Homo sapiens: one gene and its partners. The protein of the gene in region 7 purifies or fractionates together with the protein of the main gene of each other region. This does not show direct contact. Each region holds a gene or a part of one and is shown on either strand. Other genes may lie near its edges. The genes, in order: NAGLU, ARSK, ITGA8, PAM, CHD1L, POGLUT1 and ART3.

Evidence for each region.
Region 1: the proteins of ART3 (region 7) and NAGLU purify together in Homo sapiens (affinity purification with mass spectrometry, with the first as the bait; 2 studies listed by BioGRID). This does not show direct contact.
Region 2: the proteins of ART3 (region 7) and ARSK purify together in Homo sapiens (affinity purification with mass spectrometry, with the first as the bait; 2 studies listed by BioGRID). This does not show direct contact.
Region 3: the proteins of ART3 (region 7) and ITGA8 purify together in Homo sapiens (affinity purification with mass spectrometry, with the first as the bait; 2 studies listed by BioGRID). This does not show direct contact.
Region 4: the proteins of ART3 (region 7) and PAM purify together in Homo sapiens (affinity purification with mass spectrometry; 3 studies listed by BioGRID and IntAct, with this or other methods). This does not show direct contact.
Region 5: the proteins of ART3 (region 7) and CHD1L purify together in Homo sapiens (affinity purification with mass spectrometry; 2 studies listed by BioGRID and IntAct, with this or other methods). This does not show direct contact.
Region 6: the proteins of ART3 (region 7) and POGLUT1 purify together in Homo sapiens (affinity purification with mass spectrometry; 3 studies listed by BioGRID and IntAct, with this or other methods). This does not show direct contact.

The regions. Positions count from the first base shown.
Region 1 is NC_000017.11:42,534,764-42,539,040, reverse strand, and holds the start of NAGLU (alpha-N-acetylglucosaminidase precursor), read right to left. Parts: upstream 2,801-4,277; 5' UTR 2,769-2,800; coding exon 2,386-2,768; intron 2,225-2,385; coding exon of another isoform or gene 2,168-2,224; intron 1,644-2,167; coding exon 1,496-1,643; intron 703-1,495; coding exon 556-702; intron 372-555; coding exon 286-371; intron 1-285. UniProt on the Homo sapiens protein: Involved in the degradation of heparan sulfate.
Region 2 is NC_000005.10:95,589,601-95,593,100, reverse strand, and holds part of ARSK (arylsulfatase K precursor), read right to left. Parts: intron 1,701-3,500; coding exon 1,476-1,700; intron 1-1,475. UniProt on the Homo sapiens protein: Catalyzes the hydrolysis of pseudosubstrates such as p-nitrocatechol sulfate and p-nitrophenyl sulfate. Catalyzes the hydrolysis of the 2-sulfate groups of the 2-O-sulfo-D-glucuronate residues of chondroitin sulfate, heparin and heparitin sulfate.
Region 3 is NC_000010.11:15,604,923-15,608,422, forward strand, and holds part of ITGA8 (integrin alpha-8 isoform 1 preproprotein), read right to left. Parts: intron 3,369-3,500; coding exon 3,313-3,368; intron 2,910-3,312; coding exon 2,755-2,909; intron 1,501-2,754; coding exon 1,363-1,500; intron 870-1,362; coding exon 802-869; intron 1-801. UniProt on the Homo sapiens protein: Integrin alpha-8/beta-1 functions in the genesis of kidney and probably of other organs by regulating the recruitment of mesenchymal cells into epithelial structures.
Region 4 is NC_000005.10:102,758,305-102,761,804, reverse strand, and holds part of PAM (peptidyl-glycine alpha-amidating monooxygenase isoform e preproprotein), read right to left. Parts: intron 1-3,500. UniProt on the Homo sapiens protein: Bifunctional enzyme that catalyzes amidation of the C-terminus of proteins. Alpha-amidation is present at the C-terminus of many endocrine hormones and neuropeptides and is required for their activity.
Region 5 is NC_000001.11:147,284,184-147,287,683, forward strand, and holds part of CHD1L (chromodomain-helicase-DNA-binding protein 1-like), read left to right. Parts: intron 1-167; coding exon 168-316; intron 317-1,140; coding exon 1,141-1,304; intron 1,305-2,114; coding exon 2,115-2,317; intron 2,318-3,451; coding exon 3,452-3,500. UniProt on the Homo sapiens protein: ATP-dependent chromatin remodeler that mediates chromatin-remodeling following DNA damage.
Region 6 is NC_000003.12:119,482,463-119,485,962, reverse strand, and holds part of POGLUT1 (protein O-glucosyltransferase 1 precursor), read right to left. Parts: intron 636-3,500; coding exon 576-635; intron 1-575. UniProt on the Homo sapiens protein: Dual specificity glycosyltransferase that catalyzes the transfer of glucose and xylose from UDP-glucose and UDP-xylose, respectively, to a serine residue found in the consensus sequence of C-X-S-X-P-C.
Region 7 is NC_000004.12:76,102,209-76,105,708, reverse strand, and holds part of ART3 (ecto-ADP-ribosyltransferase 3 isoform a precursor), read right to left. Parts: intron 1,773-3,500; coding exon 1,740-1,772; intron 1,361-1,739; coding exon of another isoform or gene 1,260-1,360; intron 1,113-1,259; coding exon 1,080-1,112; intron 188-1,079; coding exon of another isoform or gene 1-187.

The DNA of each region.
Region 1 (4,277 bases), on a different chromosome or scaffold from region 7:
AAGCAATTCTCCTGTCTCAGCCTCCTAAGTAGATGGGATTACAGGCGCGTGCCACCATGCCCAGCTAATTTTTATATTTTTAGTAGAGACAGGGTTTCACCATGTTGGCCAGGCTGGTCTCGAACTCCTGACCTCAGGTGATCCGCCCAACTCGGCCTCCCAAAGTGCTGGGATTACAGGCGTGAGCCACTGCGCCCGGCCCAGAGCTTAAGTTTTTAAGTCATGTTCTAGAAGGGAATAAAATTCCCTCTCTGAGCTAAGTGGAGGGGGTGAGCGGAACCTCACCTGGTGACAGCCTCGGGAACATGCCCCGCGAATGCAGGCAGCACTGGGGTCATGCCGAAGGAGCGCATCTGGTCCAGGACCCGGTGCTGGAGGAACAGAAGGAAGGGTGGTGAGCATGGCCACTGCTGTCCTATGAGAAGGCCCTCATCTCCCAGGATACACGCAGCCCCCCGCCTCAGTTAAGAGCCCTGGGGCCGGCCTAATACCACCCTTCCTGGGCCCATGACCATCTATCACCGATTCTGCCCCTTCCCTTTTCCATCCTTTTACCTGCAGGTAAAGCTGCTTGATGTGCCAGGAGGGGGGCAGGGGGCCATCCCAGGTGTGCAGGTTGCCCATTCGCCCCCAGGCCAGGAAGGCAGGACCAGTAAAGAACTCATTGATCTCTGCCTGGGTCAGGCCCAAGGCCAGGTACACCTGAGGAAGAAGGGCCCACACATAGAAATATATTCATCTTCATTCATTCATTCATTCATTCAACAACCATTCACTCATTGCTTCTTTGTGCTGGGTGCTAGGGCTACTGAGACAAAATCCGAACGCTGCCATCAAGGAGCCCACAGCCCAGAGGAAAGAGACCTGTGAGTAGGTGAGTTCACTGTGTTGCCTTTGTCGCATGGGTGAGGAGATGGGGCACAAAGGGGCTTTCCCCCAACAGGAAGGCCTTAGAAGGCTTCATGGAGCAAGAGTGCCAGATGGAAGGGCAGGGCAACTGTGTGAAGAGCTTAAGCAGAGCCTGGAGCAGCCATTGCAGCACAGAAGCTTCCAGGGAGGCAGATCTAGAGCTGCCCATGAGTTGGATCCAAGGGACCAGGTGATTGGCTGCATAGGGGAGATGGGGGAAGGAGCCCCACTCCTCAAACTGGAAGCCTCAGTTTTTTTTTTTTTTTTTTTTAGACAGAGTCTCGCTCTGTTGCCCAGGTTGCTATTTCTTTGTATTTTAGTAGAGACGGGGTTTCACAATGTTGGCCAGGATGGTCTCGATCTCCTGAACTCCTGATCCGCCCGCCTAGGCCTCCCGAAGTGCTGGGATGACAGGCGTGAGCCACCGCGCCCGGCCGGAAGCCTCAGTTTTTAGGAGGCCCAAGCCACTGTGCACGCTGAAAGCACTTCTAGAGAGAGACACTGCGCCCATGCTGGGGGGCGGGTGAAAACACCTACGGTGGCTCCCGCCATAGAGGAGGGTGGGGAAGGGACAGTGGGCACGCACCCGCTGCCAGATGGCCTCCTGGCCGCTCCAGGCCAGTGCCAGGTTGATGCCATTCAGCGCCATCCAGTCTATCTCTCGCTCCCAGCGGGCCCAGTCCCACCACACGAAAGAGTAGCTTTGCGTGCACACATTCTGGTAATAGCGGTACCTGCGGGCAGTGTCATGAGCAGGGGCGCATCCCACCCTGGAGGGTCCACGGCCCTGGAACAAATCCCCCATCCCCCACCTAGAGGAGAGGGGAGGGGCTCCAAACTCGGCCCTTCTGCTGCACACTGGGACCCACCCCAGGTGGAGCTGAGACCAGGTACCGGGGCTGGGCTTCTGAGGCACTCGTCCCCTGCACTCTCCCAGGGCCCTCTAGCCTGGCGGGTATTTGGGTGGCATATTCCACTTTCATGCCACACTGCCAGAGCCCCTCCTCTGCACGGTGTTTTCCTGGAACGGGGAATCCCTGCCCCCACAGTCTAACAGATGGGCAGGGGAGGACAGCTGTGTGAACACATCACTCCATAGTGTGGCAGGCGCTGGAACACAGGCCTGTAGGGTGGGGGATGGAGGCGTCCTTCCTCAGTCCGCAGGTTCAAAGAGAAGGTGGGGGAGGAAGGCAAGAAAATTCACTCATCACCAATTGTGCACCACAAATTCTATGCCCATCATCGTGCAAATCCTCACAATAACACTGCACGGTAGGCGTCTTCTTTCCGTTTTTCAGGTGGGCCAGCCGAGGCTCTGAAAGGCAGAGTGGCTGGCTCAAGGCCACACAGCTGCTGGAGGCGGCGCAGCTGGGCCTTCCGGCCAGCGCTCCCCGCTCAGCCTCCCGATTTGGGTGGCAGCGGCTCCGGGAGGGGGTAAGCGCCTCGGGCGGACGCGGGGAAGCTTCGGGGCGGTACCTGTTGGGCGTGGCCTCGGTCAGCTCCCCCGGCACGGCTGGCAGTGGCCGCGGCAGGCGCAGCTGAGAGCCGGACCAGGCCACGTGGCAGCCACAGAAGTCGCGCAGGTAGCGGTGCAGCCCCGCGGCGGCCGCCACGCCCGTGGAGCCGCGCACCCGCACGCGCGCCGCGCCGCCGCCGCCCAGGCTGTAGGTGTCCAAGCCCGGCTTGGCAGCCAGAGCGCGCTCCACCGACACGGAGAAGTCGGCCGCGGGGCCTGGCCCCAGCAGCCGGGCCACGAGCGCCCGCACGGCCGCCGCCTCCCGGGCCTCGTCGCCTGCCGCGCCCCCGGCCCCGGCCAGGAGAAGGACCCCCACCGCCGCGGCCACCGCCACCGCCTCCATGGTCTCAGTCCTGCGGGTCCCGCGACGGCCAGGGGGTGGGGCGGCCCGCGTCCAATCAGCTGCCGGCCTCCGGCCACGTGGACCCGAAGGCTAAGCCCGGGCTCAGGGCCAGGAGTCGCGGCTTCCGGGTACCAGGATACTCCCTTGGGGGCGTCTCGTGACCGCACGCGGTGGGGAGCGTGTGACCCCGGCTCCAGGGCCGAAGGGGACCCGCTGGCCCTCACAGAGCGCCTTCGGGTAAAACGCGCTTTCACACGCAAATAACTTCCATCCAACCATCTAATAAATACACATTTGGAGTTTATTTTGTATCAGGCACTGCCATAGCTACTTCCCTACTGATGAACGAGAAGACGGTCCCTACCGTCCCCGTCAGGGAGGTGACCTAGAAACCAGATATTTAACGTAAGTAAGGATTTCCATCATAGTTGTGATGCTGCGAAGTAGTGCAGTAAGTAGCGAAGTAGCGAAGTAAGGTTTCCAAAGGAAGTGACTTTTAATCTGAAACTCAGGGATGAATAGGAATTGGCTAGAAGAGGGAAAGGAAGAGCCTTCCAGACAGAAGAAATGCATTTATTGAAGGCCCTGAGAAGGCAGAGAGCTTGCAGATTTGAGTAACTAACAGGCTAGGAGGTTCGAGGAGGGATGGGGCCATGTGAGCCCAGGCCGGCGGTGGAGCAGGGCTGGCGGGCACGTTAAAGGCTGTCCATTGGCGGCAGCAGCAGCAACATAACAGGAGCTGTCATTTTGTCAGAAGTTTCCAACCAGAGCGACTCCATCTTGAACAGGGGCTGGGTAAAATGAGGCAGAGACCTGCTGGGCTGAATTCCCAGGAGGTTAGGCCTTCGTCACAGGATGAGACAGGAGGTCAGCACAAGATAAAAGGTCACAAGACCCCGCTGATAAAACAGAATGCAGCAAAGAAACTGGTCAAAACCTGCCAAAACCAAGACAGGAAGGTGACCTCTGATCGTCCTCACTGCTCATTATACGCTAATTATAATGCATTAGTATGCTAAAGACACTCCTAGCAGCGCCAGGCAGTTTACAAATGCCATGGCAACGTCCAGAAGTTACCCTATATGGTCTAAACAGTGGAGGAACCTTCAGTTGGGGGGGATCCCCACCCCTTTTCTGAAAAATTCATTACTAACCCACCCCTTGTTTATCATATAATCAAGAAATAACCATAAAAATAGCCAACCTTAGGCCAGGAGCGGTGGCTTACGCCTGTAATCCCAGCACTCTGGGAGGCTGAGGCTTGCAGATCACCTCAAGTCAGGGGTTTGAGACCAGCCTGGCCAACATACAGTGAAACCCCGTCTGTACTAAAAATACAAAAGTTAGCCAGGTGCTGGGCGCGGTGGCTCACGCCTGTAATCCCAGCACTTTGGGAGGCCAAGACGGGCGGATACGAGGTCAGGAGATCAAGACCCTCCTGGCTAACACGGTGAAACTCCATCTCTACTAAAAATACAAAAAATTAGCCGGGCGTGTTGGCGAGCGCCT
Region 2 (3,500 bases), on a different chromosome or scaffold from region 7:
TATTCATAAAACTCTAAATTCATATATATTCATAAAACTCTAAATATACTAATAAAAGAGACCCAAATATACACAGTTCTATATAAACTTCTTTAAAAAAAACACAGAAATGAGGAAAAGTAATAGTGATCAGCTAGAAACTAATGGAATGAGAAAGTGGCCCAGATATGGCTGAGTGTGATCATTACTTTGGGATAAAGGGAAACCAGCAAATGATGACTAAGAAACAGAAGAGATTAAAAATTCAAAGAACTGGCCAGGCTTAGTGGCTCACGCCTGTAATCCCAGCACTTTGGGAGGCCGAGGCAAGCGGATCACAAGGTCAAGGGATCAAGACCATCCTGGCCAACATGGTGAAACCCCATCTCTACTAAAAACACAAAAATTAGCTGGACATGGTGGCAGGCGCCTGTAATCCCAGCTACTCAGGAGGCTGAGGCAGGAGAATCACTTGAAACTGTTAGGCAGAGGTTGCAGGGAGCCGAAATCGCACCACTGCACTCCAGCCTGGGTGAAAAAGCGAAACTCCATCACACACACACAAAAAAAAAGAGTTCAAGGAACTGGAAAGAAGTATGTGTAATTATATGAGAAGGGATATGAAATAAAAGAGGAAAGGACGCTGGTTTAAATTAACTCTAAATAAATTTAGTTAAATTAAGGGAAGAACTTTGTGGCAGAAGGAAGCAGATAAAAAGAACTCTGATTTCTTTGATTTTAAGATGCATCTTTCTTTCACATTTTAACATTTCTGAAATTAGAGAACATAACTTGTGCTATTTTTTTTTCTTTCACCAAAATTTATGAATTGAGGGTACTTTTTCCAATTGATGGTGCCTTAGAACAGAGAAACTAGTGTTTAAATGCTAATGAATTTAAAGTACTTTGCTAAATGAGATAGAAACTAGAAGTTAGTTCTATGATTTCCTTTGAATTTGATTATGTCGTTATTCTAGTATCTTCAACAAAAACTGCTAACTACCCTTATCCATATGTTGCTTTTCTAGACATATGGCTATGCTTGTAGACATTAAGAAGCTAGTAAAGCAAATAGTACAGAACTATCTAAAGAGTCTGAGGAGGAATATGTTCATACTAGTTTCAAAGTGAATAGAATAATTCAGAAAGGAAATGCTTACATTTTAAGGAGGTGGTGGTAGACAATCAAATGATGTACAAATCATATCTATAAGGTTATGAACCCGAATATCTTACATGGCTTACTTTACAGTCATCTCCTGAATACAAATCTTTTGAGGGAAAATGACTATAGTAAGTGAAGGCCACAGGGACATGAAAAACAATCTCTTCATTCTTCAGAGTACAGATTTGACTCACAGTTGAATGAGTTGCTCAGGGTTATAAACAAGTCAGCAGGACCTCTGACTACTAACTGAAAGACTGACTCACTGACAACTTCAGTTGCATTCTCCAGCATTATTACAAATAAATATTTACAGAACTACATTACTTACCAAGCATGGTAGGGTAAATATCCACAAGAGAAACCACATTTGATACTTGTAGGCCGGCTTTAATTCCTGGTCCCATCATCAAAAGCGGAACATGTGCACTAGCCTCGTACATGCTCATTTTATAAAACTGTCGATGTTCCATGGCCAGCTCTCCATGGTCTGAGGAGTATATGACAATAGTTTTCTGAAGAAGATCTAATTGATGAAGGGCCAAAATAATTTCACCTACAATAGAAATCATGATAAACCGATTAAAACTTTCAGTTCATGTTTTATTCTATCACATTAAGTTTATAACCACTCTACCCTATAAGAGTTTGTCACTATGCTTCTTAACATCTGAATATTACCTACTGTTCTCAAGTTAAGTCTAAAGTTGACAGTGGTCTGTCTACTGCTTGCTCTTCAGCTGACTAGAGGAAGAAGAAAATATAATACCCATGGGAACTCTTGCTCAAAGCTGCTTATCTGGAGATCATGCCGGCTTGTTTTCTAGGTTTCTACCAGAGAATAGGGGAAAAAATCTTCCCCTTAGTGCCTTGAATGAGAAAAGAAAGATCAGTTGGATATGAGCACTTTACATGTCTCAGATGATAAAAAGATTGGTATCACCTCTGACCCACAGTTTCTGTGCAACAGGAAGTGATAAGAGCAGTCAGAACTCTTCTTCTCTGCTACTTTTTCTCCCAAATCTCTAAGCAATCACCAGATCATGCTCATAAAGTTGGCTGAGGATTATGGAAATCCCACCTTTGAAGAAGGGCTGGAAGCAGGACAGATAGTGTACAAGTTTGATTTAGCATCTTCTTGGATAGGGAATAATGGGACAGTAAAATTCCTCTGACCAGTTCCTGTCTCAGTGTTCTCGAACTTCCTCCTACTGTAATTAAGAGAATCACAAGAAAGCACAGGCCAGAGAGAAGGGTCATCCCTATTTTGGCAGTTCCTGAATCTGGGTAGAAGAGTGTATATTAATTTAAAAACCTACAGATTCTGAGGTGTAATCAGGATTGACATTCACTGCTCTATGGAGTTATTTGCAGAGTTGAGACTCTCTTGATTTTTCAACTGGACAACTGGAATTACTTACTAATCGGTCTTGCCCCTACTCCTCTTTCCCCTGCTTGTACTATCCTGGTGTCTATCTTTCTAAATTACCTAATCACTCCATTGTGTCACATCCCTGCTTGAAACTTTTTCATAGATGCCCACTGTCGAATTCTTTAGCATAACAAGCAATGCCCCTGTCCACTCTCCACACTCAGCACCCTCGGCTACCTGCTAGACCTTTACGTTTCAACAATCCTAACCTGCTCAGAACCTCCTAAACACACACCATATTAGTTTACGCTTTCTTGCCTCTGCATATACTCTGCCATTTATGGTGAATGCCCTTTCTCCCACAGTCTACTTGACAAATTCCTATTCTTCCTTTATGACCCAGCTCAAACATGCATTATCTCTCTAGCAAAGCACCATTCCCTGCTCTTCTAGGTAGAGTAAATCACTTTGTTCTTCAGGATGCCTACAACTTGCATATTACTGTAGTCACAACAACACATTGTAATTCTTAGCATTTATGCTCATTCAATAAATGTTTACCGATTATGCTCATTCAATAAACGTCTAACTGGCAATAAATAATTGCCAGTTAGAATGGTAATTATTACAAAGTCAAGAAACAACAGATTTTGGAGAGGTTGTGGAGAAATAGGAATGCTTTTACACTGTTGGTGGGAATGTAAATTAGTTCAGCCATTGTGGAAGACAGTGTGGCAATTCCTCCAAAATTTAGAACCAGAAACACCATTTGACCTAGCAATCCAATTACTGGGTATATACCCAAAGGAATATACATCATTCTATTACAAAGATACATGCACATGTGTGTTCACTGCAGCACTATTCACAATAGCAAAGACATGGAATCAACACAAATGCCCACCAACAATAGACTGGATAAAGAAAATGTGGTACATCTACACCATGCAATACTACGCAGCCATAAAAAGGAATGAGATCATG
Region 3 (3,500 bases), on a different chromosome or scaffold from region 7:
TGCAGTTCACTTAGAACTGCAAATCAAGCCAATAGTTGGAAATGCCTACTCCACTTTTTAACCTTACTTAAAGCGATTGCATTTGAAGTTGATAAATTATGAAATTTGGGGGAAGTCCCTCTGAGAAGTTACCAAGCAGATTCCAAACACTGGCAGTGAGATAGTTCCTGGGAGGGAAAGAAACACAAATCTGTTTCTTGACCACAGAATGTTTTACATCCTAGTCCATGTCTTCCCATAACAGAATACAGTGCAATTTCCAGTGCTGGAATGGGGGCGTCCATTACTGGCAACTGTGAAGCCCTTTGATTCGTTTCAATTTTGTGACACCTTCTGCTTTACTCCATAGAGTGCTATTTAGGTTTATTTATTCAATAAGTTAAAATTAATTTTGTTTTGACAGTTTTAAGGATGGCTTTGAGTCATGGGGTGCTGAAAAAAAGTTTGGTTGAAGGTGTAGATGGAACCTGCCTGTCTGAATCCTTTGTCTACTTGACTGAGGCAAGTAAACATAACCCGAGCCACCCCATCAATGAGTTTACTTTCAACAAAAACATTTTTTTCCCCACTTTTGCTGAAAGATGAAACGACCCAGGCAAAATCTTAGGGTGTGTCATTTGACACCAATGACAAATAACTGACCCAAACCACAGGCTAACCCAAAGTGTAGCCAAGCTCAAGAATTTCACGCAGCATAGTTTTTGGTAGTTATTGGAAGTGTATACTTTCTCCAGAGAACCTTTACATAAATACCTGTAATTCCATTAGATAGAAAGTACACATTTAGTTATTTAAACTTACGGTCTAGCCGACAGCTTCAAGTCAGGAACACACAGATTGTCTTCTCCACAGTCCACCAGAATGTGAGCCTGTGTTGTATAAACGCACGTCAGGAACAATCTAGGAAAATCTGATTCACATCCTTTTTCTTGAAAATTCTGAATGGTGCCACAAACGGAACCAGAGCTTTCCTCTCACTATGCATGACTCTACCCAAGCCAATAGCCTACATTTCACAGTGACCTCCCAATACAGGCTACTTTACATAATAGCCCAATTCCAATGCACTCTGAAATATCTGCAAAGAATGCAACTCTGCCTATGGCTTGAGGATTACAGGCTGTATTGCTTCCATTACAGCCACATTTTGAACAAATTAAATCTTGATTGCACAAGAGGAAAGGCTTCCGAAAAACACAATCATGCAGTGTTTCAGGAAACATGGTAGGAAAACTCCCAAATGTTCCATGTCTGCATGCAGAAGTAAAAATGAAAGGAGCTGGCTTTAGTCTTAAAGCCATGAGAACAACACCCCAGAGAGCTTGCTTGAGAAAATGCCGTCAAAGACTGTGAAGGACTTACCTGTTCACTAACAATGTTTTCTCTGTAGTAGTTCAATATTGGTTTCACTTCCAGGCCTTCTTTAAAGGTGGATTCGTCCAAACTGTAATTCAAACTAATGTTGATTGGAGATAATTTATCTCGGAATTCAGTTTCATCCTAGGAAAAATAATCACAAACTCAACAGAGGCTCCATGAAATAGCTGCAAGATGTCAGTCTGCAAAAGTCAGGCAACACTGGAATTTACTCAATGAAAGTGAATGATGAAACAATTATCTTTGCAGCAGGCTTAGATGGAGGCTGATTTATGTGGTATATAGTAGCCAGCATACCTAATATATGTGCAGTGATGAAATCATTTAGAGCTGCGGCTTCATTGAAATACGCTTCTGGAGCCAATCTTTGGGTTCTCCAGACCTTCAACAACTCATGCAGAACTGGTCAAGTTGCAAAGTAAAAGATTACACGTGTATATCATAAATGTCACAAAAAACATCATGAATTTGGATTTTTATTTTCGTGAGGTTGCCAGAATTTATGAGTTCTCTCTTGGGGCTCAGAAGAAGAAAACATCTTGATTCTCTTCCTCTCATCATCTTTTTAAGCCCTTGCCTGCATGAACTTCAGAACACCTTCAGGATATTTGAAGTTCTTTTGGAAAAAGAAACAGAACTCCTTTAGTAGAGAGGGGTAAGCACCAAACAGCAAGCACTAAACACACGGTGGATATGTCACCCTTCAATTGTTTGCCAATCAAGGGTCAGGTATCCAACTTTTCATTCTTGAGTGTGATTGTGAACCTGTGATCTTCCCTAGGGTGGTCCTTGCTAACTAAGTCCCCTAATGGAAAAGAGAAATTGAGACAGTTATCACAACCTCACAACCGGCAAGGTGAAGATAGGTAATTGTGTTATAAATATTTTTACTTTAAAATTTCGGTAGGTTTTGAAGTCATTGTAAAAAGACATTACTTTAAATAAGATAATTATAAGTTACTTCTAATAAAAGCTTTGAATGCCTAAATATTTTCCTGAATTGGCTCTGAAACATGCATTGATAAAATCTAACAAGACATACTCACATAGGAGAAAAATTCACATAAACTGTGTTGCACTTTTATGTATTTTGGGGAGGAGGTGGGTAGAAATGAAAACCATGTGAGCTGAATGCCATTATAAAGATTTTGATCAAAATGAAAAGAAGCCTTAGAAATTAATAGCAACACATCATCAGGTTAGTTGAAGTCAGGGTCAAGAGGAGAGTATTTGACCCTAAAATAAAGTTTCCTGCTATGAAAATGAAAACAGACAGATGGGGGTCTATGCAGACAAACATGATGGTTAAATGGAGAAAAATGGTTGGAATTTGGATATGAAGGAGAGAGGCCAGAGAAGTCTTTCTGGAATACTTACTCGAAGGTAAACGATGAAATCCTGGCACTGGTGGGATTTCTGCCTTTTTATCACAAGAGGGAAGACGCGATGAGCCTGATGGTTATCAAGGAAGAGCGTCCGTTTAATAGCTCCTTTCTGTTTCAGGGAATCTAATTGCACCTCTGCCATCAAGACTAAAGGACAGAAGTAAAGTAGAGAAAAAGTATTCAGTGAACACAGTGCTCTATCAGAGAGATGAATTTCTATTTCAAGTTGCTTATTCAGGAAACAGTTCTTTTTCATAGTTGAGACCAAGCATGATAAATGAGCTGGAAAAATTGTATAACATACTCTCCAAGCTACAAATGTTTTATAATGGTTTTATAAAAGTTGTCATTTTCCCTACAATTATATGTTCTTATAAATAATAGTATTACCAAGTATTGAAGTAATATTTATTAGAAGGTTCCATATATGCAACAGATATCTTGGTATTCCTCAAGGGTTCTTTCATTTTTTTATGGTCTGTGCAGAGAAATGGTTACTGTTCAACTTTCTTAGTATACCATAAGAATGTAAAAATGAAAACATGCTTACCTATTGTGTTTGCAATGCTCTGGCCTGTGACAGATGCACATACTCTTAAAGAAAAGCTATAGAAAATAGTAGTAATTTATTGGTTAATAAAGTTTTGAATCTAAAGTAGAAGCCTTCCTTTACCTAATCCCAGATAACGAATATCATTTTCTCTATATATTTCTAATTACACACACACACACACACAC
Region 4 (3,500 bases), on a different chromosome or scaffold from region 7:
ATGCTATTCAAAATTAACTAATATCTTCATAAAAGTTCCCTTCAAAAGAGTTCTAAAAGATAACATAAGTGCTTAAAAATAATAAATTCTATCTTTAAAATATTCTAAACTTCAGACTTTTAAAAGCTTGAATTAATCTTTATATAAGTAAAATGTTACTGCACTACAAATGAGTACTATTTTAAAACAAACTTACTTTGGCATAAATAAGTGAAATTCTCAAGATATGAAATTTATAAGGCATTTTTAGCCACGGAAAAAGCAGGTAGTAGTATGATTCTTCCATAAGGGCCTCAGACTTTACTTTTATTTATTTCTACCACTGTTTTTGTTTTGCTTATGTTGTACATGCAGCAGTGAACTGTACACTCAATGCAGGTAAAAACCGTCCTTTGTTACTGCAACTGTTGGCTGGACCTATTATTCTTTGTGCATTTGCTTCCCAGTACTTGTGGCCCACACTCTCTACAAAATGAGCTTCTCCTATCTGATAGGGAAGCAGATCTGCTGCTTTGATTGTTTCCTTAATTCTGCGGTGTCATTTAAAGTTGTACTTTAAAGTATTATGTTTTATATTTTTTGAGTCCAGTTCCCTCCTTTCTTGAAGCTACCCTCTTAAACTCCCTGAACAAGAGCCATCTGGAAATCTTGTTCCTGTCCTCCATCCTTTCTGTGAGACCACACCAGCACAGCTGGGTTGCAGCAGGCACTGCCGAGGTGCTGCTGGACTGGCTATGCTCCAGACCCTCACTGTTAACATGCAATTCTTGTCCTTTTGTGTTAAGCATGGTTAGTAGACAAAGCTCAAGACAGTGTTCAGCAGTTCAATCTCCTTTGGGCACAGATCCTAATCTCACAATCACACATGATTTGAGTAACGCTGTTTATATGTAGAACTTCTGTTGCTACATGGTCCCAGTCTGCCCAGTCTCCAAATTGACAGTGTAGATACTTTTCCACTTTTCTTTTCCCCAAGAGGCCTGAACTAAGTACTGTATAGGTTATCCAAACAGAAATATTTTCTTTGTATTAAAGGGACTCCTGTGAATCTAACATGAAGTCAAACATCATTTTTATGCTGTCGAAATCAACAACTTCTACTGTCTCTACTCACTCACCAACACAAACAAAATTTGAAGCTTTAAACCAGCAATGTCCAATAAAACTATCTGCAATGATGGAAATTTTCTATATCTTCTCTGCCCAGTACAGTATCCACTAGCCTTGTATGGCTATTAAGCATTTGAAATGTGGCTACTGCAACTGAGGAATGGATTTTTAAAATCGTATTCCATTTTTAATTAATTTATACTTAAATTTAAACAGACAATGTGGCTAGTGGCTATCAATAATTAAGGGTCTGAGATTTTTATCCTACTTGCAGGCTAACGAAATCAGGGTGCCACAGTTTCATGGGGATGCTGGAAGAAGACAGAAAATTCTAGGGTGAGAAACAAAGGACTATACTACTCACAAAAATATCAGTAGCAGTAGTATCAGCATAGTTGTGCCAATGTCCTGAAACTCAGTTCCCCCCATGTGATGTGAAGCAGATACTTGATGATCTGCATTGTCAGAGGGGAACCCTGAGCTTAGGGTACTTGAATCTTTTAAACTGGACAGTAAAACCTACCTGCCCTTTGCTTCAGAGGGAAAGAATACCTCTATCTTCCAAAACTATCTACCATACAAATGTCTTTAAGAGAGTCTGGGATGAAAGCAGTAAATGCCTTTGCTCACAAGACATGCAAAAGTCTGAGTGACTAATGGAGAATTGAATCCCAACATAGGGGTATCATACATATCTCTGAAATCCACTCATCTCCCACCTGCTTGAATACCTTGCTTTTAGCCACACTTAATTTCTTCCTATGACCACGGTAAGCTTCCAAATGGTTATCTTTCTTCCACCACTGCCTCCTCCCACTCATTCTCTATACAGTAGCTAGACTGCATCTTGTAACACAAATCTCATCTTGTTTCAGTCTTCAATGTCACCCACTGTCCTTAGAATTAGGCCACCCCTCCTTAGCAAGTTCCACAAAGCCAGTGCTTCCCTTGCTTGTCCGTTTAAGGTTTATGCCTTTAGCCACATTAAACTCCTCTCAGTTTCTTACATGTAGAGGTCATAAAGTGGTGGCCCTAGGTTGAATTCCAACTACAGATTTGTCTGGTTTGGCCCACAGAATAGTTTTTAAAACATTTGGGTTAGTTCATATTTGGGAGATTTCATATTTATAAAATATGAATTTTAAGCTCCTCTTTAGAAATCAAGGCATCTGGCAACACTTGGCCTGCATCCCAACCTGACAATACTTGGCTGAAATGAGTATCTACTTTTCCCTTTAGACAGCTTGGATTCTCCAGATTGCCACGCCTCTCCCTCCTGCTCTTACCTATGTATTGTTTAACATTTTCTGCCTGACTTCCATTCTAAGGCATCATGCTCCCTTTGGTCTCTTTCAATCTTCCCACCTCTTCAGCTGCTAACTACCACTCATGCTTCAGGTCTTCATGTATTCATGCTGCTAGGAAGTTTTCCTTCACCACCACCAACCCAATTAGGATGAGATGATGCACTGTGTGACATTCACCTACCCAGGACCCTGCTATCCTATCTTCTGAGGTTCTCTTCACTACCCTTATCATGGCATGAATCATATGGCATTATAATTTTTTAAAAATTTTCTTTATAAATTTATAATTCTCTGTTTACAGATCTGCATCCCTCTCTAGACCTTTCAGTCATAAGAAAGTGACTATAACTGTCTTGTATACCATTGTATGTCAGTGCCTAGGAAAAAGCCAAACGTTTAGTGTGGGCTGAATAAACACTTGTTGCATAAATGAATGAAAAAAGTTAGCTGAGGAATGGCTATTTCAAAATATTGGGGAAGAGTGTATTTATATTTTTATATATGTATTCATTTTTAAAATGTGGACCACTGAAATTCCATTCCTTCCCCCCTCCCCCTACCCTGGAGAAACTAAAATAACTACTTGAGTCATAGAGCAATAGCTGTATACTGGCAATGTGCTAAGAACCACACATGGATTAGCTCATTTAATGCTGACAACAGTCCTTTCAGGTTAGTATTTCATTATTCCCATTTTGGAGAGGTAAACATTCAACCCCAGATAAAATGAAGGCCTTATTCTCCACAACACAGTAAATTGTAGGGATACATGATGACTGAAATTTCTGCCAGGATACCTGAGAGCACATGACACCAACAGCAGCTTTATTCACAGCCCATCTTTTGAGCTATTTGTATGTGGTTTTAATAATTAGCTTTCGCATTCAAATGGTAAAGAAAGTTCTTATACACACAAGAAGCATTTATGGCTATTATACCAGATGACACGGCTTCCAGGGCAGTAAGAAGGATCTTTAATCTCATTTCACAAATAGAAAAACAAAGGTATGGAACAATAAAGCCAAGTGTAAAGTTAACATTATGTCCCTCAGGCTGCCCCTCAGCCTGCCATGCCTTAATGTG
Region 5 (3,500 bases), on a different chromosome or scaffold from region 7:
ATTCTTCAGTGTCAGTGGGATGGGAAATGAAATACCTTCCTTCATATGGACTTAGCCCATTTAGAATATAGGCTGTTCTCCTGTCCACTTTTGTTATTGATTTGAATAGCATTAATCTATTTTTCCTTGGTATCTAACATTTCTCTCTTTGTGTTTTATGTTGTTAGAAAATCATATGTACTTATTTGAAGGTAAAGATTATTCTAAAGAGCCCAGTAAGGAAGACAGAAAATCATTTGAACAACTGGTAAACCTTCAGAAAACCCTTTTGGAGAAAGCTAGTCAAGAGGGCCGATCACTCCGAAATAAAGGCAGTGTAAGAACTGTTAATTTATTTAAAAGTTGTTCTTCCAAACTCTCATTCTAAAACAAACAAAAAAATGATGCTGGCATCGTTTTGTTCTCTTAGGATGATTTGTCAAGAAATAAGTATGTGTTTGCTGAAATGTTATTATAATTAACTATACCCTAGTATAAAAACTATGTAAAAAAGTCAGCATGAAAAACATAAAGGAGAGAATATATTGTACGATGTCATGTAGGTGAAAGCAGCCTTGTCCATCCAAGTCACCCCTAAAGGCATTCCTATATTATACCAAAATACCATATCCTGCTGTTGGTAATGATGACCCTATGACAAGAAGAGAGGATGGCAATCATAAATGATATATGTAGTGTTCACAGTGTTTGGCAGTTAACGTGGTCATTAAATGCTAGCTATCACTAAGATAATCATGATGTTGAAATACAATCTTAAAAAAGTTACATAATACATTGCAGAAAGAGTTCCATTAAAAATGGCTGAAGTGGCATCCTGCAGGGTATGCTTTTAGTCAAGGAAAAAAGTTACTTTTCTGAAGTAACTTATTCCTAATGAAATGAATCAAAATGACTGTTTCAACCATGCCAATGCTAGGGCTGAGTTTACAGCATGGTATCCTGGTCACTGTGCCTGTGAAGTGTGTAGTATGAACAGTGCCTCCAAGTGCTTTGCCTCCAGTTCCCACCATGCAGGGTGTGTGGAGATGCAGTGTTCTGTGGAATATTAAGCATGTTGCTTCCGTACAGTGTGTGTTAGGGATAATGAAATTCGGGGAGGAATCTTCTTGACCCTGGTGATGGATCTTGTTCTTCCTCTAGGTTCTCATCCCAGGCCTTGTGGAGGGATCTACCAAAAGGAAGCGGGTTCTGAGTCCAGAAGAGCTGGAGGACAGACAGAAGAAAAGACAAGAAGCAGCTGCCAAGAGAAGGAGACTCATAGAGGAGAAGAAGAGGCAAAAGGAAGAGGCTGAACATAAGAAAAAGTATGTCTGCGTTAACCAAGCTGGCGGCCACAGTTGAAGGAGTCACTATTGTATAGTGAGACCACAGTTGAATATCACTTTAAAAATACAGAAAATTCATTTTAAGTTGGTTCCTATTGGTAACAGAATACTTTCTGAAAACATTTCCTCTAGGTAAGTGAAAAGTCTCAGTGTATAAGGCAGGGAAGATGCATTCCATTAAAACCAGAATTGTTTTCTTTTTTCTTTTGAGATGGGTTCTTGCTCTGTTACCCAGGCTGGAGTACAGTGGTATGGGCACAGCTCATTCAGCCTCAACTTCCCATGCTCAGTGATCTACCCACTATAACCTCCCTAGTAGCTGGGAACACAGGTGTGTGCCACCATGCCTGGCTAATTTTTTTTATTATTTGTAGAGACAGAGTTTCACGGTGTTGCCTAGGCTGGTCTCAAGATCCTAGGCCCAAGCTGTCTTTCTGCCTTGACCTCCAAAGTGCTGGGATTACAGGCGTGAGCTACCATGCCCGGCCAAAACCAGAAGATTTTAAGATTTTATTGTAGCTATCTGACAAAGAATAATTTACTTCAACAATCTCTTTTAGTCTTAAAAACAGGAACATTCAGGGAGTGCTCATTATTGAATTGTAGTCAGGAAGCAGTTAGCCTAATCAGTAAGACTTGTTTACAAATAAGTAGAAAACTTCAATCAGGGTGAGTTTCTAATTGCATTTCTACTTGGCAGATATTGTTTGTGAACAGCAGTATAAAATGTGCTCCAAGGGAAATTGTGATTGTCTGGGTTAATTTCCTTTTGTCTCTGGCCTGCTAAAGGATGGCCTGGTGGGAATCCAACAATTACCAGTCCTTCTGCCTGCCCTCTGAGGAGAGCGAGCCAGAGGACCTTGAGAATGGGGAAGAGAGCTCTGCTGAGCTGGATTACCAAGACCCAGATGCTACTTCCCTCAAGTACGTTAGTGGTGATGTCACCCACCCTCAGGCTGGGGCCGAGGATGCTCTCATTGTGCACTGCGTAGGTACGAGAAGTGGTATGGGCTGGGGATGGGGGCCTCAGTCCTTATGGTGCCAAGAACTGGGGAGGATGGGGCACTGGGACTGGGGTGGTGGTCCCAGTGTAGTATTGTACAGTCAAAAAAGTGTGAATTTTAGAGTCAGGAGATATTCCAGAATCATTTCACTCTTGGCTTTCTCATTTACCTGGTTTAGTTACCCAACCTTTCAACTTCAACTTCCTTATCCATATGATGGGACAATATCTGTCTTATCCTCTGCACAAGGTTTTTAAGAGGGTGAAATGAAGCAACATTGATAAGACAAACAAATCCTTTGAGAAAAAGCAAAACTTCAAGCTTGTTCCCTTGCTTGACCTTTGTACTTTTTACTTCATCTGCCTAAAACCCTTTCTTCCCAAATAACCACATCAAGTGTTGTTCAAATGTCTGTTTCTCAGAGAGGTCTTCTGTGATTACCTCATATAAAACAGGCCCCATCCCCCCTGTTATTCTCTGTCCCTTCTCCCATATTTTCCTTTATCACACCTGTCCCACCTGACACATTACCTATGTATTTGTTTATTTGACTGTTGCTTTGCATTAAAAAATACACTTATGGCAGCAGGGGTTTTTTCTTGTTCGCTGCTGTGACTGTGGTGCCTAGAACGATGCCTTACGTGTAATACATGCTACCAAACGTTTGTAGTGTGAATGAATGACTATAAATGCTAAGATACTAAGCAGCTTTGTTAGTACCAGCTTGAATAAGTCACTTAACCTTTCCTGTGTACTGTTTCATAACCTTGCCTATGTGCTGTTGCATAACCTATTGCTTCTACTCACTCTGTAATGTTCCATCTACTCTCCGTCCTTCCGCAGTCATTTGCCAGGAATCACAGATGCACCACAGAGATTTTGCTCATTGAGAACCCTAATTTTTGAGATGCTTTCCTGTTATCATGGCCCCAGCTATATCTTCCAGAAAACATAAACATATTTGGGAAGTCCAACCTGTGATATTCCTAGGAGATAAGATATTTTGTTTCTTCCCTTTGAAAAATCATTCTTCCACAAGTCCCTTTTGTGTGCCTTTGTTTTTCTAAATTGTGCACTGGACTTCACCTCCTATAGATGAAAATTTTCTCTTTCTTCAAACAGATGACTCTGGCCACTGGGGCAGAGGTGGTTTATTTACAGCTCTGGAAAA
Region 6 (3,500 bases), on a different chromosome or scaffold from region 7:
ATCATATATTGACATGCTAGGAACTGTTCTTGGCCTTGGGACTATGGAGCTGAACAACACAGGGTCCTCCTACTACCTTTGCCATTTTTCTCTTCTCTTTCCTCCCTGCTCCCTTCTTCATTTTCAGCAGTCTCAGTCTGTGCTCTTAACCACTATTTGGCAGCCACAGGGTGTGATAAAAAAGGCAGTCAAGAGATATGGTGATGAGTCCTGCTCTGCATTAACCAGCAGAGTACCGTGGCATGATCATAAGCTACTCCTAGGGACTGTAAGAAGACACCCATCTGTTGTGTTTGGCATCACATAATCAATGACCGACACATTTGTGACACTATGTAAAATATCTGTTAAATGACTGAAATGGATGAACTTTACTTCTTTGAATATCAACTCAATCAATGGCGATTTCGGCAAATAATGTGAATTATTCTCGAATCTAAAATTGTGATTCCACATTTCTTTCTTTGTTATCTTAGCTTTCCCTTTGAACTACAGAGCTTGTCATACCCTCAAAGTTACTTACATTTTACATTACTTGGAAGAATATCTTTGTAAAATGTCAGAAAATAACTCACCTTGATCCTCGGAAATATGCTGTAGAGTTTTTCTTTTTCCATGGCCACTGTGCTGCTGACCTAAGAATATAGAATTTAATTAGTTTCAATATATCTTTTTCAACTATATAAGAATGTGCTTTAACCATTTCTGAAGATTAGTTCAGAGCTTCATATTTCTTTTTTTTTTTTGAGACGGAGTCTCGCACTGTCGTCCAGGCTGGAGTGCAGTGGCGCGATCTTGGCTGACTGCAAGCTCCCCTTCCTGGGTTCATGCCATTCTCCTGCCTCAGCCTCCTGAGTAGCTGGGACCACAGGCGCCCGCCACCACGCCCGGCTAATTTTGTGTATTTTTTAGTAGAGACAGGGTTTCACCGTGTTAGCCAGGATGGTCTCTATCTCCTGACTTCGTGATCCGCCTGCCTCGGCCTCCCAAAGTGCTGGGATTACAGGCGTGAGCCACTGTGCCTGGCCAGAGCTTCATATTTCTAAGTAAGTCTAATCAAAGTCACTCAAAAGAAAAAGCCCTAAAGGACACTTTGTTTCCTTTTGCTACCATTTCATTGCTCTGGAGGTGCTACCCAGTTGTATCTACAAATCTACTCCCCATTAACAAGTTAACAACATTGAAAGAAAAGCCCCCAAACCCTGAAGGTCATGATTAGGTCTGTTTATAATTTGGCAAATGTGGATTTCCTCTGTACTTTAAGTAGGGTGCTACTGATGAAATTAATTATGTGTACAGAACTGCAAAAAAATAAAAAAGCATCAGAAATGGAATGAAAGGGAAATCACTCTCTGATTTTATGTTTTCCATAGGTGGGAAGTGTCATCAGATTTAGTTTGATATTTGAAAAGCACCTTTGTATTCTTAAAGCCAGACTAAGTGCTCTATAAAGATGAAGTCCTTGAAAGTCAGATCTCAGTACACATTACCATGACCAGCCTTCCTTACTGAAACTGCTAGCTCACAGATGCATCATTCTTAACTTGCTTCGTAGGAACCCTCCCTGCACAGAAGTCTGCACAGCATCTTCTCTGAAAAAGGAAGGGAAGGCTGAACTGAAGTTAATGAGGGATTGATGGGCTGGATTACAGTAACGGAGAAACTTAGGATATAAACTTTCTAGGCACAGGTCCTTTTCAGATACATATAATGTCATGCTGCTCATTTTCACTCAGCTGAGAACGCTGCTCAGTATTTTCCAGGCCCTCAGACCTCCACCCTCAGCCAACGTGGCTCATCCTCTGGCCTTTTCTGGATGGATCACCTTTACCTGATTCTCCAGTCTAAGGCCAGAACTATCTTGTTTTCCCCATACTTCTTCCTGCCCAAGCAGAGACACTATAGCACTGGATTTTTGTTGTTTTGTTTTTAGTGGAAAATGTTTCATGCTCCTCATGCAAAGTTCTCATGAAAAAGCATAAAGATAAAAGTAAGAAGTCGTCTGGAATCTCCCTGTCCAGAGGTAACAATGTAACATTTTAGCCGAGAATTTCCTTGCAATCATTTATTCATATTAGTAGCTTTCAACTGGGGGTAATTTTGCCCGTCCCTCCCACCCAGGGGACATTTGGCCATGTCTGTAGACATTTTTGATTGTTACTACTAGGGGACTGCTACTGGCATTTAGTGGGTAAAGATCAGAAATGCTGCTGAACAATCCTACAGTGGTTAGGACAGCTCCCAGGACAAAGAATTATCCAGCCCCAAATGTCAGCAACACTAGTACTGAGAAACTTTGCTCTATGTAACAGAGGTCACACCATACATACTGTTAGGTAACAATCTTAATAGGAAATATAAATAATAATAACAGCCAACATCTATATAGCACTTCACTATGTTACAGACATTGTTTTAAGTGCTTTGTAAATAAAAAATCATTCTCACAATCTTAAGAGGTAGGTTTTATCACCCCTATTTTACAAATGAGGTCCTTTAGAGGTTAAGCAACTTGCACAGAGTCATGCAGCTAATAAGAGCCAGGATTTGAACCCAGAGTTTTTAAAACCTACACTGCCTTTCCATTCATGCACGATATTCCATTTTATAATCTCTGGCAAAGACTCACTGCAAAAATTCCATTTTATAGTCATGTTATGATTCACTTCATCCTTTATTGATGGACTTTTAGGTAGTTTCCAACTTTCTGCTCTAAGAAACAACATGGTAGTAAACATCCTTGTACACAAATCTTTGCACATTCATCTGATTAATTCCTTAGGATACATTCTAGACATGAAACAGCTAGGTCAAAGGATACACAGTATACATTTCCAATTTTGATACATATTGTCAAACTATCTAACAAAACATGTATCAATTTATACTCAAAGTTACTTCTCTTTATTTCCTTGGCTCCTGGGGAAGCTGTGTTTCATATACACAAACCCAAACTGTGTATCACTGTTCTCTCTCTTTCATTCTCCTAACCTACCCATCCTCCCTCAAAAGACCTAGGTTAGGACTTGTTTCTCCAGGCAAGTGCTAACGGTGGCCACCACAGCCTGGTGCTACCCCAGCCCTCTTTTTTAAACCCTCTCTGACAGTAACAAATGAAATCTTCGATCTGTAAAGAACAATGAATTCTTCTACAGAGTGAAATATAAATCAGTGGGCACAAACTCCCAAAATATCAGAAAAATAGAATGAACAGTGGCAGGCAGACATCAGTGCAGATGGATAAACAAGCAGATTATTAAATTTTCAAGGTAACAAATGAACATCATTAGAGATTCTAAACAGAGGGTTCTAAAAAACAAAATTGTATTTCTATAACCATGAATAAATTCAATTGAATAAAATGGGAAGGTATCAAAAGAAAAAAGTATTCATATAAGATTAGACTTTAAAACATTCTATCTGCCTAAAAATTGCTTACTAGTTTACCTGGGGGAAAATGGTATTAATAACTACACGGTGGAGTAACTGGATAACACCTT
Region 7 (3,500 bases):
TCAACACTTTCCCTGTCTGGCTTGCAGACTGGGATATCGGAAAGTGTACAGCCCAGATGTCTTCCCCAGACCCCATAAGACTGAACTAACTGAATGATTATGGTAAAGGACTTAGAATCCATGGTGCCTCCACCCCCAATAAAGAATATATTACCAGGTTTTTCATTCAGTTGTATCATTTTTATTCCTAAACAAGAAAGAGGTTTTCAGATAATAACAAAGGCAGCTACCATTTACTACTATGTTACCACCATTCATTTTGCTAGGTACTTTGCTAGGTACTTTATCTCATCAGTCCTGCAAGACAGAAGCTTTCCTCATTTTACAGATGTGAAAGCAGGGGCGTAGAAAGTGAAGTAACTTATATAAAGCTACTCAGAGGAAAGTGGCAGAGACTTCCTGAAGCCAGGTCTATCTGTCTACACAGCTCATGTTCATCTCCCACCATGCTCGGTGGCTGCCTTTCAGATAGCCAGATGAGCAAGACCCCAATGATGGCACTGTGCAAACTCAGGACTAGCGAGCTGAAGAGATGTAGACGCACAAGGTGTGTCATCAGTGTCACTAGAGGTTCACTTCAAAGTTGTGGCCAAATAAATCCAACAGTGCAAATTTGGGTCAATATAAAAGAGGTCCTGGACCCTTTTCTCTGAGCCTATGTTCTCTGAGCCTTTATTTAACTAATGGAAAACGCTGTTTCTTTATACAGCACGCAGCTTCCATTGACAGCAGCGTTACGTGAAGTTCAGCACTGTGTGGCTGGATATAGTTTTTAAGATGCCAAATATCTAATTTCCTTAACAGATCATCATTTCCATAATAACAAAACCTGCAAAAAAATATTTCAAAGTACTACATGAACTCAGGAGAAAGGGATTTATGCATTGGACAGTGGCTTGCACCCTGAGATTCCATGGTTTTATAGTCCTTACAAATATTCCTGTCATGTACATGTGACTACTGATGGCTACATTTGATAGATGACAATTATGAGGCATAGAAAGTCCCATGCATATCTAATGGTGACTGTACTCCCCAAACTGGCATGTTCCCCTCTGGCATGCCTATCAGTTGCTTACCAGGTAGTGGAAAAGGTTCTGGAATTTTCATTCCTAAATGAGAAGGAAGTTTCCAATGACTTACAGTTTGCTCCACTGAGTATAATTTTCAAACTCTTGTCTGCTGAGCTTAAGAGATGCAAGCACCCAAGGCCCCAATGCACTATAGTTTCTGGCTTTTTATTTAAAAGTTCTGCTTACGTAAACCCTTATTATACAAATCCACACCATGATTAGAGGAGTCTTCTGCCATAGCACTTCACTGAGCATGTTTATGCCAGGAGAATATCGTGTTTTGTTACCTGGAGATACAGGCAATGAGATGTTAGCCAAGACTAACAGTCAACTTGTGCGTAAAGGTAGGTTTCTATTGAATAACTTTAGCTGTAGAACCTGGAAGGTGTTGGACTGATGCATCCAGATCCCAGGAGCCTTCCCCTCAGCAACATCCAGAGCAGAACTAACTTTCCTGCCCCAGAGACAATGCTCCAGGAGCACATGAATGCACAGGAGGAAAGAGACTTCTCTACGCTTCCCCAGCTAAATATTTGTAGATGACTGGCAGGTAGCTATAAGGGAAATATTCATGAATAATAGTCTCATGACAGTATTCTCTTAAATGCCTGGGAATCCTGCTCAACTCATTCTTGGGCTCAGGGAGTAAATAGAAAGCTGTCTTACCAGGTATTTGGGTGGGTTCAAGGATTTTCACACCTAAAGGCAGAAATAAATATTGGTTTGTATTAATCAGTTATCTTATACTGTTAATACTCTTCTTTTGTCTATATTTCCTCCATTTCCAACTTTCAAAAAAAAAAAAAGGCAGGGGGAAAGAAAAAAGAAACAGCAACAACAAAAACACCTTTCAATGGCTCTTCATTCTCCATGTGACAGAGTCCAAACTCCTTAGCCTGGACTTCAAGAACTTCCACGATCTAACCCGTCTCTCCAGCTTTATCTTCAGAAGGCAGTCCCAATATATCAGTTTTTGGATGAAACACTACTGGTTTTACATTTCTGCTTGGTTTAGCTCTATCGTAATTATAGTTATTAGCTCTGTGACTTTGGGCAGACTACTTAATCCCTCCTAACTTTAGTTTCTCACTTTGCAAGAGAAATATTTACCTCTTAGGTTTGTAGTTAGTGAAGATTGAAGGAAAGACTGCATAAAAGTGCTTGGTACACTGCACGGAGCGAAAAAAGGTACTCAATAAATGAAGTCCCTTTGTTCTTGTCTAACTCATTCCTCAAACTCTCCAGGCTCAGTAATATTTTTTTTTCTTTTTTGAGAGACAGGGTCTCGCTGAGTCGCTCAGGCTGTGGTGGGGTACAATGACACGATCATAACTCACTATGATTCTCCTGCCTACGCCTCCCAAAGAGCTGGGATTATAGGTGTGAGCCACCGTGCTGGCTTTTCACAATGTTCTTAATCCTAGGAATCCTTATCGTCTCCTAACCATGTAGCTAGTCTCAGTAAATAGATTATTTCCCAGGTGAAACAGTGAGCCTCTGGCTTTTTATTCCTAAGGACGAGAATAAGAACTATTTAGTAAAAAAATGCCATCAGCTTGAAAATTAATTTGACCTTATACTTGACTTCTGTAGTAGAAAACTCAGAACGCTTTGAGAAATGGCAGAGGACAAGGTAACAAAAAGAAGAGATTTAACCCACTGGAGCCTAACTGATGATAAGAACTAAGGCTAGTGACCCAGAATCTCTCCTAGGTTAAGCACCTCTTGTTCGTTTTTTAAAAATTCAACCCAAAGACCTCGACCCAAAATTGGCATTATATGTAATATATAAAATATGCTTCCTAACTATATAATACGTTATAGATAATTTGGAAAAATACAGAAAATTATTAAAAATTAAAGTTCTCTTAAAACTGCAGATCTCGGAAATACTCTACTCATTCTTAACATTTCTGGTGTATTTCAATCATTTTGCTATGCATACATATATATACATATACATTTTTAAAAGTTAATATTATACTCTATATGCAGTTCTATATCCAATTATTTACCATTGTATTAAGAGTACTTTCTTCTATCTTTAGATGGTTTTGAAAACATGATTTTTAAGTTGCTTAGTGTTTCATAATATAGGTAATATTTTATTTAACAATACCCAATGGTTGGACACAGGTTGTTTCTAAATTTTTGCTACTGTCAAATAAAAATTATAGGAGGCCATTGCTTCAGACTAAGTTTCTGCAGAAGGCCCCAACAGACCAGACTAAAAATCGAAATGGAGTCACCCATGCTAAAGTTCCACATCATCTAAACTAAGTTGTCTGAACTTCTAAGAAATCAGGAGAAAGAAATAACAGAATTTCCCAAATTGGCCATTTTAAAATCTTCAATCAGCTTGATAAATGAAGTTCCCGATGCTTCAATCCTTACACACAAAAAAGGTAGCCTGAAATAAACTGATGT